2 linked regions of the Homo sapiens genome follow. The protein of the gene in region 1 purifies or fractionates together with the protein of each later gene. This does not show direct contact. Each region holds a gene or a part of one and is shown on either strand. Other genes may lie near its edges.

Region 1 (4,886 bases):
ATCTAGTCACTGTCCAAGTCCTGCTGATTTTTCCTAGGAGTAAAATATCTCTGTCATCCATCCCTACCCTTCATTCCCATTACTCTAATATAGATACAAACCACACTCCCTTTATCTTCTAACAGATGAAATCAGGAGTAACTAATCTCTCTTGGCCCCTCATATGAATTAGGGGTACATATCAAGATATAATAACTGATCTACCAACTTTTAGGATAGAGGGCTGGCAGACTTCAGAGCAGTCCCCAATGACCACATCTTTCTCTGGGGTGGGGAGGGATGCTGGAATTTCTCATCTGATACTAGTTTCATAAGCCAAATATTAACTCTTAAGTAAACAGTAACCCTCACAAGCATTAAGAAAAGGACACAGCAGAAATTAGTTTGCATACCACTACAAAGTGGTTTGCATGCTATTTCTGGCATTTGTGCCATGAACTGCTTTTGCCTGCTTCAAAAGAAGGTAGAACTGACACTCAACAGAGCAAGTAAGGTACAACTCCCAAGCTTAATTAAGCCAACTAATATTTCCACCCCTGATGATGTAGAAACCTAGATGAAGGCAGGTAAAGCAAACATGCTGCTAGGGAAACACTAAAAATAGATGGCCAAACAAAATCTAGTGAAATGCCTGCATACAAAGAGAGATATAAATCTCATATATAACATATACAAATAAAATCACAGCATCAAAAGGCTAATTTATTTATACTACAAATGAAAAAGGCTCCGATTTAAGATGAGAGGAAATCCAGGACCTGGTTCAAAGTTGGATCTTGCCCTTAGGCAGAGAATAACAGAACGTTTATGTACTAATGTACTAATGCTCTATTCTTTTTAACTTCAGGACACCATAACCAAGATAAATTTCTGAAATTCACAACTTAACCAAAACTTTTAATTTTTACTTTGCGTGTTTAAATTTTCAAAAAAACACATTTACATATTCAAAAAAAAAGTCTGATGAGTGACATCCTAAATATTTCCACTTATTATTTCTGAGTTTTCCTATAAAAGGCTGATGGCAAATATATTTATTATTTAGGGTCCTGCTTTTTCCAACTTTATCAAGCTGTTTTAAGTAAGTAAATAAATAAATGAAAGTAATTTCTATAAGGATGCATCAATATCTCAAAGCTTTCTAAAAGAATAAAGAATGTCATACTAAAGCTGGGCACGGTGGCTCATGCCTATAATTCCAACAATTTGGGAGGCCAAGGCAATAAGACTGCTTGAGTCCAGGAGTTCAAGACCAGCATGGGCAATATATCAAGACCTCGTCTTTAAAAAAATTAAGAAATTAGCTGGGTATAGTGATGTGTGCTTATAATCCCAGCTACTCAGGAGGCTAAGGCAGGGAGATCGCATTAGTCCAGGAGTTAGGGGCTTTGGTGAGCTATAATGATGCTACTGTGTCCCAGCCCAGCCTGGGTTACAGAGTGAGACTCCATCTCAAAAAAATAAATAAATAAATAAGCACAAAGGGAAAAAAAAGGATGTCATACTAAATTAACGTATTTCCTTCTGAGGGAGGGACACGAGTTTAGGTCAGCATGTTTACGAAATGACCAAATGTCAAACCAAAAGGCCTTTACTTAAGAAAGCAATTACAACTAACAGGTATATTAAATAATTCCAATTCACACATTCTCTAATACCTATAGCAGAATTAAAAAAAGCAGAGATAGAAATTGAATCAGACACCCAGTTACGGCCATCTTAAGATAATGCTTCTGACCCCGACTATTACTGTCTTCTGTCTATAATCTAGGACAGCTTTTCAACATTTCATTCAAACTTTTTCTAAACACATCACAGGTTTAGTCTAAACCAACCTAATTTAACACAATTGGTGTAATTTATTTGTAATTCTACGATTTATACTTTTGTCGTAGCAACTTAAAGCCTGAAGACAGAAGATACACAGTTGACTCTTTAACAACATGAGTTTCAACTGTAAAGGTCTACTTATACTCAGATTTGCTTCTGTCACCCGAGACAGCAAGACCAACCCCTCCTTTTCTTCAGCCTACTCAAAGCGAAGACAATGAGGATGAAGACCTTTATAGTGATCCACTTCTGCTTAATGAATTATAAATATATTTTCTCCTCCTCATAATTTTCTTGGTAAGTTTTTTTCTCTACTTTATTGCAAGAATACAGTATATAATACATATAGCATACAAAGTATGTGTTAATTGACTGTTTATGTTATCAGTGAGGCTTCCAGGCAACAGTAGAGACTATTAGTAGTTTAGTTTTCAGAGAGTTAAAAGTTACATGCAGATTTTCAACTGCATGGTGGGTCAGCACCCCAACCCCCACATTGTTCAAGGGTCAACTGTATTAACAAATGCATATAAGTAGCAGTCATATACATCCAAGAGGAAATTATCAATTTAGCCTTTTTTTTGAGAGATCCTTTCTTTCATGAAATGATGGCATTAACCTCAGGATGCACCCTTTACTGCCTTTTACCAACATTTGTCTACATGAAAAGCATAAAGATAACCTTGTCACAACTGATGCCTGAAACCATTATTAAAAAGAATTTGTTTCAACAAAGTAAATGTGAGGGGACCTCTTGAACTGATCCTTAAGATATTTTAAGATGCTACATGTAACAACGGTGTAATTTAAAATTCATGCTAACTTTACCATCAAGCCACAGTGTTCCTGGCACCTTTAAAACAAAATTTAACCTTGCAAAACAGATCATGGCTAACTAAGATCTCCAAAATCAGTCCTGGGCCCCTAGGGGTGTGTTCCCTAGGAAACTATTTTGTTTCATAATGCTTTGCGTTAACAGACCTGAATTCTGCTGACTTTAAATGAATGACAAAAATATGAAGACAAATCAAGTATTTGGAATCCAACTGTCAGAAGGTTATTGCATACAAGTACTCTCTACAGCATCCTCTGGCTTAAATTACTACAGTTTACAAAATGTCATATATATAATCTCTTTTAGTTTCAACTCTTTTTCAGAGTACTAATTAAGACTATCATTTTATGGACAAAACTGCAAACAACATAAACTATATTTCCCACACCCAAAGATATATTTTTATAACCTGGTTTCCTATTTTCAGTTAAAGGAATAAAATTAAGGTGGCTTCTCATCCCTTTTTCCCTATAGCTTCTCCAACTATAGTAATGCAATTTTTTCTTGAGACATTCCTAGCTGATTAACAATTTGAAATTGAATTAAGAAACTGCTTTTAAAAGTAAAGTGTAAATACAACCATTTTCAAACAAAAAAGATTGGGGCATTGTTCTCTACACCTATTAGCTCTGTCTATAATCTTAAATTAACCATGTCCTGAAATCCTGAAGACTATTACATTTCTATCCACTAGTCAAACATTTAAGGCTATATTAAAGTTTCATGTGTATTAAAGTCACACTGAATTTTCTATGGGAAAGGCCAAATTTATTCCAAAAAATAAATCCATTACTAGAAAGGAAAACCTATGTGCAAGCTTCTCCAGCTAGACATATCTTTTCTAGTAAGCTATCACTTTAAACATGCAATTAACTTTTAAAAATCAGGTAAGAGCTGTTTACTTGTGCATCTCAAGATGCCTAAGCGGGATCTGTTTAGATTTGTGATAAACATGTAAAAACAAATTCCAAAGGATCTGGATAAAATCCTAACTCACGACTGAATGTTAAGTAGTCCAAAAATTCCAGGAAATTAACATTTTAAACGTTCCTAGTGACAAGCAGAAAGTGTTCATGAAACATCCTGGAGTCTACAGCTAAAAATTGGTCAAGCTTTGCTGAGAAAGTTTAAATGGGCCCTAGGAAAAAAGTCCAGAAGAATCTAAACCGAAGTGCCAAAGAAAATACCACCATTGCTGAAGGAACCAACACATGGATGAAACCATTTCCTCCCCACACCACTGTAAGCTACCTAAGAAACCTTCATGCTGATGCTCTAGGGAAACACTATCAATTCTACACTGTTCACACCCACAAATGTAACTACCTGCATACCTACTGGAGGATACTCTTACTAGGGAACAGCAGCATCACTCAATTCATCCAAGTTAACTGTATGTCAAACATTGCTCTGGCGGCTTCATTTATTACTCACATCAACTTTGCAAGAGGGCATTATCTCATTTACAGATGAGATAACTTAGAGGCTGAGAAAGCTTAGAAGCCTAGTAACTTGTCAGATTTTTCAGGAGAGGAAAACATTACTTGTCGGGCTTCAAATCCAAACCTGTCTCTTTCTGTACTGGACCCTGGCTTCTTGGTAGAGCCCTAACTTTTTCTGTAGGCTTAAAAGCACTAATGCCATAGAAAATTCCTTACCTAACTCCACTTATCCCTCAACTAACAATGACAACTTCATTTTGAGCATTTGGCTACTACTGTTCCCCCTTCCAACATTTAACTGTCATGACAATATTAATGCCAGGTGGCCTATTAGTATGTATCAAACATTCAGCTAGGCAATTTATAATTAACATTTACCGAGCACTTACTATGTGCCAGATACTGTTTGAATGTTTACAACAACCTCATAAGGTAGGTTCTATCATTATCTTTATTTTATGAAGAAACGGAAGCACAGAAAACTTTAATATGCACAAAGCCAAATGGTAAGCGACGAATCCAGCATTCAAATCAGTCTGCATGGTTCCACCACAACTCAAGCTCTTAAACGTTATCATTCCTACCTCACAAGAGAATTTATACAGGGTTTCTCATTTAATCCTCTCAATTCTGTGAGTTAAAGATTATCAATCCCAATTTATAGATGAAGAAATACAGGCTCAGAAAGGTGACGTAATTTACTTAAAATCACACAGCTTTAAGTGGTTCAAGACAAGTTAGTCAAGACTTGAATCCATTTTTGTTTCACACCTCCAAAT
Region 2 (4,886 bases), on another chromosome or scaffold:
GTGCAATGGTAAAAATAGCACTTCTGAGTAAATGGCACCTGGTACACACTAAATAATAGGATGAGGACATTGATTTTTTAAATCGTTAATTGCAGGTTTGCAGGAATAGCGGTGGTTTCAGTAAGGAAGAATGTGTAATTTCTTGGCATTATTTCATCTTGCTAGATACAACTAGGGATATTTGCAATTTCTAGAAGAATTTCTGTTTTTCTGACATGGCTTCATCTATATAATGTAGGCCTTTGATTGTAAAGGAAGCAAGTTCTAATCACCTGTCATTTTGTAATGTCGACATTATATAGGCAAACATACTTAGTACTAGGATTTTCCAGTTTTTGTCAGTATTGTAGCATAGTGGTTTTAGGAGGCACAGGAATTCTAATAACCACATTTCAATCCTGCTGTGCCACTCACTCTGCTTTAGAACATAGAACAATTTATTTAATCTTTCCCTCACTCGTACATAAAATGAGGGCATCAGTGTCTGCCTCCTATAGCCTTCTCGTTTGGTTCCTAGTAAGCACTCACGTGGTGGCTGATTTTATTTCATAGGCATAGCTAATCCCTGCTCTGTCTCCTTATATTTGTTTTAACTATTTGAACATTTTCTTTTTTTTTTTTTTTTTTTTTTTTTGAGATGGAGTCTGACTCTGTCGCCCAGGCTGGAGTACAGTGGTACTGCAACCTCCGTCTCCCGGGTGCAAGCGATTCTTCTGCCTCAGCCTCCTGAGTAGCTGGGACTACAGGTGCGCGCCACCGCACCTGGCTGATTTTTGTATTTTTAGTAGAGACGGGGTTTCACTATGTTGGCCAGGCTGGTCTCAAACTCCTGACCTCAAGTGATCCCCCTGCCTCAGCCTCCCAAAGTGCTGGGATTACAGGCGTGAGCCACCATGCCTGGCCACGTTTTCTCTTTTGAGTCTCCTTCTTACCTGCAGTCCTGCTTATGTCCATCAAGGATTGCCCTAAGAGTAAAAACCATGTCTGTTCCTACTTCTTCCTTGCTTTACCCTGGGCAGTCTGCCTCATGCTTTCTTGTCCGACCTTATCTCTGTTTTCTCCCTTGTTAGAAGAGTGAGACAGAAATATCTTTCTCTTTTGAAATGTTTACTCAAAAATTATATAATTTTAAAAATAGCTTTACCCTTTAAAAAGTGAGTCATTAATCAAATGTTTTACATACGGATAGGGATAAGAACATGAACAAAGTGCGTAGATCTAAAATGTTTTGCATTTTGAGTCTAATGTCAAGAGAAGTTGCACCAATTGTTTTTCAACAAAGAATTGATTTTTGTTTTGGTTTCTAAGCAGTCTAGCTTAGAAATAGAAACCAGTCTAGCGTTAAATTATTTCCATCATATTTTATTTAGGGATCATTTTAATGAACTTAAAATATTCAACTTTAATCTCTAAATGACGAAGAGCATGTAGCTGTGACACAATTAGAACATAGTTTAATTCCACAGCAAGACTCAGGTCTTGGCTCATTTGTCCTGTGTTCATTCACCATCATATCTTTCCTTTAATTATAGGTGAAGCTTATGTTTTAACTTTGTTCTTAGAATCTCTGAAGATCAAAACCTCCTATGTAAATCCCTATTCATATCGTAACACCAAATGTCTTTTTACGTGAAGCCGTTGTTTTACTAAAGATACACGGGAAGTGTATGCTCTGCTTAGATGAGATATTCATTGGTGTCTAATCTTCCGGTGGGAGATGAGACCTCAGAGTAGACAGTGCATATATGCTGTTGGGAAACTTACATGAAATATAAAGGTGGCTTTGTTATTCTCTGAGGTATATAGCAGTGGTTCCTAACCTAACTTACAATTACAGAGTCAGGAATTGTGTTGACCATACAGCTTTCCTTTATATGGTTAATATATGATTCTAGGAATTACACAGGTAGAAATAAAATTCAAGTTCTTTCATCTCTGCTTGGAAAAATTTGCTTTTTTGATGGTGGGTGGTATAGATACGGGGAACAAACAACTAAATCTGTGGCATCATCTTTTCACAGCAATCATTTGCTCAATGGTAAAAGATAAACTTTCTTAGGTCCGTAATTCAAATCTTATACCAGATGGGTTAAAGATATACATATGATAAATATAATTAGAAAAATACTAGAAGGAAGCAAAGTAGGTGTTTTGGGTTAATGTTTAAGAGATTTTTTTCAAGGTAGAAACTAAAAAGGGAAAATTTATTTTTCAGTCTGATAACTTTTCTACATGTACATAATCTGTTGTACATGGCAGGTAGAGAGCTTATGGCATTAATATATAAATAAATTTTATAAATCAATGTATTAGTCCATTTTCATACTGCTATGAAGAAATACCCAAGACTTGGTAATTTATGAAGAAAAAGAGGTTTAATGGACTCACAGTTCCACATGGTTGGGGAGGCCTCACAGTCATGGTGGAAGGTGACCGAGTAGGGAAAGAACGTCTCACGGGGTGTCAGGCAAGAGAGCATGTGCAGGGGAACTGCCCTTTATAAAACCATCAGATCTCATGAGGTGTATTCAGTATCATGAGAACAGCACAGAAAACCTGCCCCCATGATTCAGTTACCTCCCACTGGGTCCCTCCCATGATACATGGGGATTATGGGAGTTACAATTCAAGATGAGATTTGGGTGGGGACACAGCCAAATCATATAATCAATATGAATAGAATATCCTAATAGAAAAAATAGATACTTTAAATTGAGCCAAACTTTCCAGAGAATATTTTGATAATAGGAACCAACAGTCCATATCTTTGATGCAGTATTACTTTGCAGAAAATTGTTGTATAGAAGTAAATGGAAAGTGTAGAAAGATATTTATAAAAGAATTATTATGTCAGTGCTATTTATAATTGTAACAAACAAAGAGTGATCTAATTGTCTATAAATAAGGGATGAATTAAAGTGTAGTACCTCAATATAGTCGAAGATTATGCAGCTGTTAAAAATGAGATTATATATTTACTGGCACAAAAGAGTGTGTGTGTGTGTGTGTGTGTGTGTGTGTGTGTGTGTTTACAAAATTTGGGAGGGAAAAGCACGGTTGATCTTTTTATATTTTTTTCTGTGTCTTCAAAGTACTTGAATAGAAATTGATCACTTTTGCAATCAGAATATACAGCTATTAAAATGAGAATAGGTTTAACAAAGTACTTTTTTGGCACAATTGAAGTATTATCTTTGTTTATGTATTTTGTGTGCATGGCAGACAAATGTTTTAGCGTTTACTTTTTAAAAGTTCGCAACTGGGCCGGGCATTGTGGCTTAAGTGCCTGTAATTCCAGTACTTTGGGAGGCTGAGGCAGGCAGATCACTTGAGGTCTGGAGTTCTAGACTAGCCTGGCCAGCATGGCGAAACCCCAACCCTACGAAAAATACAAAAATTAGCCAGACATGGTGGCACACACCTGTAGTCCCAGCTACTCAGGTGGCTGAGGTGAGAGAATTGTTTGAGCACAGGTGGCAGAGGTTGCAGTGAGCCGAGATCATACCACTGCACTTCTGCCAGGGAAACAGAGCGAGACTCTGTCTCAAAAAAAGAAAAAATAGTTTGCAACCATTTACCTTGAAATTAGATGTTACTTTACCTATCACTGGCAAAGATGGCCAAAGTTACTAGATTTATGTTTCTTAGAAAGTGTAGTGTCTTCTATGAGCATGACCTGCCTCCGAAATTGAGTTGGTTGCATTCAGAAGACATTTCAGAATTAGGTAATTAACTAATGAGTAAGAACTAGCAGTAGAGGTAGATAGATGGAAATTAAAGACATGAATGCTGGTGAAATAATATCCTAAAGTCATGTATTTGCCTCAAAATGCTATTGCCTTTCCTAAAGCTAAATAAAAATTGAAATGCCCTTTTTCCATAGGTCTTTTGTCTTTTGGAGTAAAAGAGTCTGCTTGGGTGAATAAAGTCTTCACAGCTGTTAATATTCTCGTCCTTCTGTTTGTGATGGTTGCTGGGTTTGTGAAAGGAAATGTGGCAAACTGGAAGATTAGTGAAGAGTTTCTCAAAAATATATCAGCAAGTGCCAGGTAAAATATTTGAGGTTTTTTTTTTTCTCCTTCTTGTTTAAGAAAATATTTTAAGTGGGTGTATTAGTTCATTTTTACTCTGCTAATAAAGACATACCCATGACTGGGTAATTTATAAGGAAAAAGAGATTTAATGGACTCACAGTTCCACATGGCTGGGGAAGCCTCACAATCGTGGCGGAAGGTGAAAGGCATGTCTCACATGGTGGCAGACAAGAGGAGAGAACTTGTGCAGGGAAACTCTCCCTTATAAAACCATCAGCTCTTGTGAGACCCACTCACCATCACAAGAACAGCACAGGAAAGACCTGCCCCCATGATTCAACCACCTCCCACTGGGTCCCTGCCACAACACATGGGAACTGTGGGAGCCACAATCCAAGATGAGATTGGGTGGGGACACAGCCAAACCATACCAGAAGGCATATGTGGGTTTTCTTCTAGAGCAGTGGTTCTCAAATTTCTTGCTTCTGAGACCCTTCTGAGAGACTGTTCCATTCCAAGACCCCTCTTCCCAGATTCCCTTCAAACTTAAAGGTATAGGTATGCTCCTTTTGGAGCAACTGTGTGAACCCATGCAGCTGCTGGTTCCCAGCCTCAAGCTCTGCTCCGGGTTTAGGGAAAGAGCAAGGGAAGATCCTAACCATTGGAAAAACTTGATCTTTTCCCCCCAGCAGTTTGCCACCACTAAATAACAATGAGTATTTTTGAGTCCTGCATCCTTTAGTTCTTCCTTCAGGACCACCATTCAGTTTTATTGTATTCTCTTAATGCTTTAGTAATCTTCAGACCTTGTTTTTTGGAGAATGTTGTTAGTTGCACAAGCAGACATAAGAT

What was found. The genes of interacting proteins can lie anywhere in the genome.
Region 2: the proteins of ATP2C1 (region 1) and SLC7A2 fractionate together in Homo sapiens (co-fractionation; one large-scale study listed by BioGRID). This does not show direct contact.

Annotation. Positions count from the first base shown.
Region 1 is NC_000003.12:130,896,644-130,901,529, reverse strand, and holds part of ATP2C1 (calcium-transporting ATPase type 2C member 1), read right to left. Parts: intron 1-4,886. UniProt on the Homo sapiens protein: ATP-driven pump that supplies the Golgi apparatus with Ca(2+) and Mn(2+) ions, both essential cofactors for processing and trafficking of newly synthesized proteins in the secretory pathway.
Region 2 is NC_000008.11:17,544,795-17,549,680, forward strand, and holds part of SLC7A2 (cationic amino acid transporter 2), read left to right. Parts: intron 1-3,883; coding exon 3,884-4,049; intron 4,050-4,886. UniProt on the Homo sapiens protein: Functions as a permease involved in the transport of the cationic amino acids (L-arginine, L-lysine, L-ornithine and L-homoarginine); the affinity for its substrates differs between isoforms created by alternative splicing.